Linked DNA regions of Homo sapiens: region 1 is linked to region 2. Evidence: fine-mapped expression QTL. A gene starts in region 2. The other region holds a variant in brackets. All regions are shown on one strand. Distances are between the middles of the regions. Region 1 overlaps ART4 (ADP-ribosyltransferase 4 (inactive) (Dombrock blood group)). Region 2 holds the start of C12orf60 (chromosome 12 open reading frame 60).

Region 1 (2,900 bases), 22 kb after region 2:
ACTTCAGTACCTTGACGATCAGAAGCCATCACTAAATATTTTAAATATGATTCATAAGTAAGTGAGAACAGTGAATGAGCAATAATAGACTTTTCTTGCTTATGTGAGTAAGACCAGAACAGATAGTTCATTCTCACTTGTCTCCTGAGGTCTTATGATTAGAAAATACTAGAGGTGGAAAAATGGAAGTACTCTAGCCTTTCACAAAGAAAAGACTTTCACAAGGAAAACACTTGCAGAAGTAGGATATCTGAGATGTGCTTTATTTAAAGAAATGAGATAGGGCAGTCTCTTTGTCTACCATAAGTCTTTGGTTCTCATGCATTGTAAATGAGTATGTACTCCTAAGATTGGTGTTGAAGTTAACTATTTCACATGATACCTGATAGAACTCTGTTGAGAATAGGAAAAGCAATAATAACTCCAAGCCAAAGCCATCATTGTAATTCCCATTGTCATTTAAAATAAGGAGTCCCTTCTCCATCCTCATATAATTTCAAAATGTTTGGTAGGGAGGGTCAAGTGGATTTTGACCATTACCAGAGCTTGGAGGTTCTGGAAAAAACGATGAGTTTCAATACATTAACTCTCATTTTCTCTCCACAGCAAAGCTGAAACCTTGCTTATTTGTAATAGGTTTCTATTAAGAACTCTATTATTTTGAAGAGGATGTTAAATTGATTCATTTGCTACCATACACATACACACACACACACACACACACACACAGAGGGTGAGAGAGAGGAGAAGGGAGACAGGACTCTCACTTTGCTACTTTTTCTGGACCTATATGTGTCTAGGGTTTCAATCTCCTTTTAGTTTTAGGATTATGTTTCAGAATGTTGGATGCAACAGCTAGGGGGATTCATATGGAAATGAATGAGACAAGGACCAAGAAAAGTCTTGGTGCATAGTCTTTCTGTGAGGTGACTGGAAGAATAGCTGGTGGCAGTTCACAGGAAGTCCTTGCCAGATGCCAATGGGAATGACAACCAGGGTGTTAGAGATGGGAAGTGCCCACTTCAATAAAGATGAGTGGTCTTCCAGTGCTGGTGGCTGTTGTTAGGCTGGTGATCACTTACAGTGTTTCACATTTTCCCACCACTGGGTACCACCAGTCTGACCACTCTAATGACATCATGTCTGCTGCTGCCTCCTGGCTTCTGGAAATACTGAGGAAAAGCTGTATTTTTTTCTCAAACCTATTACTCACATTTAATGTTTCTCTCAAATACTTTGGTTTTGGGTTCCTCTCATTTTCTCTAATATCCTTCAGTTTTTGAAGAACAAAGTGGGGTGTGTTTCTATACTATGCCTGGTCTCATTCCTCCTCTAGGCTGTGAGCATGGGATGGCCTAGCTGTTTGAATGAATCATCAGTAGGGAGGAAAAAGTGAACTGCCACACAACACAACACATGATCATTTACTATTAAAAAAAATGAAATACTATTATACTTGTAATTTTTTTTATTAGTTGCCAGTGT[T/G]TGCTGCATCTTGGTATTTCTGAAAGCACCTAATAAATGCTTGTTGAATTTTACCAAATCAAGAGCTAGTTCATTCAGTGTAAATCAATTTGATTCATATTATTAGACAACTCAGTACAAGAATCCTGATTCTTCTAGCAAAACAAACTTTACTGAAATTTTCTTTCATTGGATTTTTTTTAAAGTAAGAGTAAATAGAGAACTTCAGGATAATCTAATAGGCGTATTAAAGAGAACACCTTGTTATAAAAATAAAGTATTACATGGGTTGAGTGTTTTTACTTTTTAAATTTTTCCTGTTTCAATCAGCTTCTTCAGATTAAACAGTATATTTCTGTACACATCAAAAGGAGACATACATGTATTTGTTTAATAAAATTACTATAGGACATAAGTACTCCTTACAGCACAGTCTCTGTTAACAGTTGCATGAATTTACACATATTTGAGCATCCGCCTTATCTTTGGAAGATATCCCAGGCTAACAAATTTATCCCAGCAGAAATTACAGTGAAATTTCTAAAACTAGTCTCTTAGAGTTTCATAAACATGTAACTTAATCAATTTAAATCAATACTCTACAGATTCCTTGCTCAACAACTTTGGACTATAGGGAGAGACTGAGGGGATGTGAGCTATGTACATTTATCCTTAACCAAACTCATGAATCTACATAATTTTAAGAGAATAGTTTCTGTCTCCAGAGATTTGATCTGTAAAACAGCAGCAGGAGTTAGAACTAAGTTATCTTTTTTAGAAACTTGGCTATTCCCTTAAGGATCATAATTGTGTAAGTCACAGTGTTCTCAAATGTTGGTGTATAGCAGAATCATCTAGAGGACTTATTAAAACAGACTGTTCAATTTCTGTAGTCTGTAGTCTGGGATCAGGCCCTAAAATTCACATTTCTAATGAGTTCTTAAAGGATGCTATTGCTGCTTGTGCCTAGAGAGTCAACGCTTTAGGAGAATTGTCTTACTCAGAAAATTATGACTTCTCATGGAAATCAAATGCTTTTGGCTGACTTTTTAGCTTCACTGAGTGGCTTCCAATTTCCTCTCCAGCCCACATTACCCCTCACTCTCTGCCAGACCTATCTGCTCCCTGACCTTATGCTGTACATACATCGATCATTCCGTATTCGCTTCTATTTTCTGCTTTCCTCTAAGTAAAACATCATCTCTGATAGAAAGCTTTATCTAACCATAGGCCAGAGGAATCACATTTTTCTCTCAGCTCCAAGCATTTAATATTTGGCCTTGTTTTGGGCACTACGCACTTGGCACATACTCTTTCTTGTTTTTTTCTCCTTCTGCTCACCCCTTCTCCCAGCCTAGAGCCCTAACGGCTGGTTCAAATGCAGCCTCTTACTTAAAGCCTTCCGGGTGTCTCTTCTTGCCTCAGTTGGAAGAAAT
Region 2 (2,920 bases):
CTCTCAAGAGTTCAAAACACAACTAAAAATGCAAATATTTGAAATTAGTGCTATACTGAGAGCTCCCCAAAACTTAAATATTAAGACACATATTTTTCTTACTAAGACCTGACTCCCAATATATATTTCTTAAGGTAATTAAAGGGAATACTTATTTTTGTTTGAGGAAAAAATATTTTGTAAGCTAAAACTTTTATTAACACAGTACCCTATTACATGACTTCTTCCTCTTATTCCAAAATAATGGGGCTTAATTTTTTGAAGCGCAGTCTTTCCAGTAATAAAGGCGGACAAATTTGCTTCCTTTTGCAAGTAGACACTTTTTAAAGGTAAGAAAGGGAAGATTTTGTCAGCCCAGTTTATTACAGTTAATGTCTCTTTCACCAAGTGTCCAACTGCCCCGAAAGCCAGATGTTTCAGAAAGCCAGATGTTTCACAGCTGTTCTGGTGGCAATTACTTCAAGACAGCGGTATCAAAGGCTCTGATTTTTAGCTTCCTCATCTAAAAAATGGGGACATCAATTACTTTATAACAAAGCTCTGATGATACAATGAGATTACAAATAAAATATCCTGTGATGTTTGACTCACTACTTAACTAAAATCTTTATAATGGATCCATATTCCTGGCCTAGCTACCATACACCCTGTCAAGTGGTTTCCTTCTAAGAAAAACTGGGGATGGGGGGGTTAGGGGGGTGGGAGAGCAGCAGGGAGTAGGAGGTAGGGAAGGAGGAAAACAAGCAAAATCAGTACATATACAAGCTCTCCCATCTTTGATTGCCTGCGTTTTTTGTGCTTTCCTTTCTCAAGTTTCCTCAGGCTCATGTTCTGAATCTCCTCCCCCACAAATGAAACACAACGGATACGAATTACAGAGAATTTTACGGAAGACACTGGAGCTTAAGTCTGCAGATTAGTTTTTTGTCTACAAGCGGAGGCGACTGGAAAATCAAGCCAAATAAGCGTTGGATAACTCTAAACAGCCAAAGAAGCTTCAATGGGATAGGGTCCAGGTTCACCAAAGGAGGCAACACCAGCAACTGACGAAACCATAGCGACGGCTGACCGACCATGACTCGAGGTACAAGACGTCAAACCTAAGGCTACTAATCAACGTGCGTAAGAAGCGGCCCCAACCGACCCGGGCGATGCCAACCGCGCAACCACTGGTCGCCGCGCCACCCCAGGCCCAGGAATAGCCCAGTCCGCAACAGGGAGACCTCAACCAGGGAGAGGAGGAGCGGGGCAAAGGGGCTGGGTGTCCCCCAAGCCGCTGCGCGGGACGTGGAAGGGACGAAAGAGGTGAGGAAGAGTAGTAAATCAATTCAATACACTCACACTTCTGCTGTGCTCCCAGGACTACGAGAAGCGGGTAGGGGGCGACTCCCGGCCTCTTTCACTTCGTAAAGGCCTTCAACTGGGTCTCTCGGTCAACCCCTCAGCTACCGCCATCTTGAAACCTCGCGCCCCTCCGCACTCCTCACGTCATTTCCCATTCCTCTGTCCCGCCTTCTCTTAGCGCCGCTTGACCCTGGAACCATAGAGAATACCCAAGAATTCCAGGACCAGAGTCTCTTCCGGTTCCATACAATACTCAATTGGTTGGTTGTCGGCTAAGAGCCCGCCTCATTGCGCTCATCTAGTACAATAGGAATTAGAAGAAGATAGCTGCTAACTGAGTGGCTGACGGTCCTGTCTCTCGAGTTGGAGGCATCTTGACTTAGTTGCTGGGAGCCTGGTACGTTGAGCCGTCCGAGAACGGTACATTCTGCAGATAAAGAAGCGTTCTGCGTTTTCTGTCTTTTGGAATTACCTTAGTTTTTGCATTTTTCTGTTTCTTATGACCCAAGCAGGTGCGATCCTTTAGGGGTGTCTCCGTGTGTAAACGAATACCCAGATAACATTTGCCACTGAGTTTAATCCGCTTTGTAAGCATCAGGTTATCCCATGTGAGCGCCTAGTACGTGTGGAAATTTAATAGACAGGCAGAACAGAACGTTTGTAGACCACCTGAACAAATAAATTAGCACCCGTATTAGAGTCGCAGATTGCTTATATGGGCGGTGATTTATTATTTGTTAGTAGTGTTTTGAAGAAGAAATACGGGGATACATATGCAGTCGGTTTTAAGTTATATGAGTGGCAAGGTTGATATATATTGGCTATATTCCCGACTGGTCTTTTCACCAGCCAAAAGTCCTCTATGATGTCACTCTACGTACGGGATTCTTCACTTAACTCTAGCCTTCGCCCTTTCCCTACCTTCTATCCCCTCTTTCCGTGAGTCAGCCCCCACTTATTTCCCTTAAAGGTAAGTTTAAACATTTAAAAAACTATCTTAGAGGATACGCTTGGTTATTTCTAATCTTAACCTGACTATCCCATGTAGGAAGGCTATTCTTACCACCAGTTATAAATATTTCAAAATATTGATGGAGATACATACTAATTTTTAGCAGAATCTTTAAACTGCCCTTGAAGGTATAAGATCGGTCCTATACCTAAACTTACCTTTGTGTTAGGAAATTCTTGATTTGATTTTAGACTGAATTTGAGTGTCAGAAAGCAATGACGAGATATTGTAGGTTAAAGCTGATAAACCAGGTAGTACATAAAAAAGAAAATAATCTTGAACTGCGAAGGTGAGCTAAGTTGTAATGTTTTGCAACTAGTTTTTTTTCTTTCCTAACACATTAGTGATCATAGTTTTGCAACTCGTTTTGAAAAACAATGCAAGAAGAGAAAGAGAAAACAGTGTATGTTGGAAATATTAAAGTCTTTCATGTAGCTAAAATTTTATATGTAGCTACTATTTTTAAGATATGCTGAGCAGTTTTTATTTCAATACATTTCTTGTACTTGGATGGGAGAATCAACTATAACAAACACAGTCTGGCATCAACAGCATATTAATAAT

Evidence for each region. PIP is the estimated chance that this variant, and not a neighbour inherited with it, causes the effect. A credible set is the group of variants that fine-mapping cannot tell apart.
Region 1: its variant is the best candidate, but not a certain one, in a credible set for the expression of C12orf60 in sun-exposed skin (GTEx, PIP 0.53).

The regions. Positions count from the first base shown.
Region 1 is chr12:14,824,116-14,827,015 of GRCh38, forward strand. It overlaps ART4 (ADP-ribosyltransferase 4 (inactive) (Dombrock blood group)), which reads right to left. Exons shown (of 3, transcript NM_021071.4): 3 at 1,454-2,900. It overlaps C12orf60 (chromosome 12 open reading frame 60), which reads left to right. Exons shown (of 2, transcript NM_175874.4): 2 at 1-300. Among named protein-coding and RNA genes, the nearest start is that of SMCO3, 11 kb to the left of the region's middle. The variant T/G (reference allele first, on the strand shown) is at 1,486.
Region 2 is chr12:14,802,011-14,804,930 of GRCh38, forward strand. C12orf60 (chromosome 12 open reading frame 60) reads left to right here and starts at 1,660. Exons shown (of 2, transcript NM_175874.4): 1 at 1,660-1,741. It overlaps WBP11 (WW domain binding protein 11), which reads right to left and starts at 1,468. Exons shown (of 12, transcript NM_016312.3): 1 at 1,342-1,468. It overlaps SMCO3 (single-pass membrane protein with coiled-coil domains 3), which reads right to left. Exons shown (of 2, transcript NM_001013698.2): 2 at 2,640-2,920. RefSeq lists an enhancer at 1,764-2,003.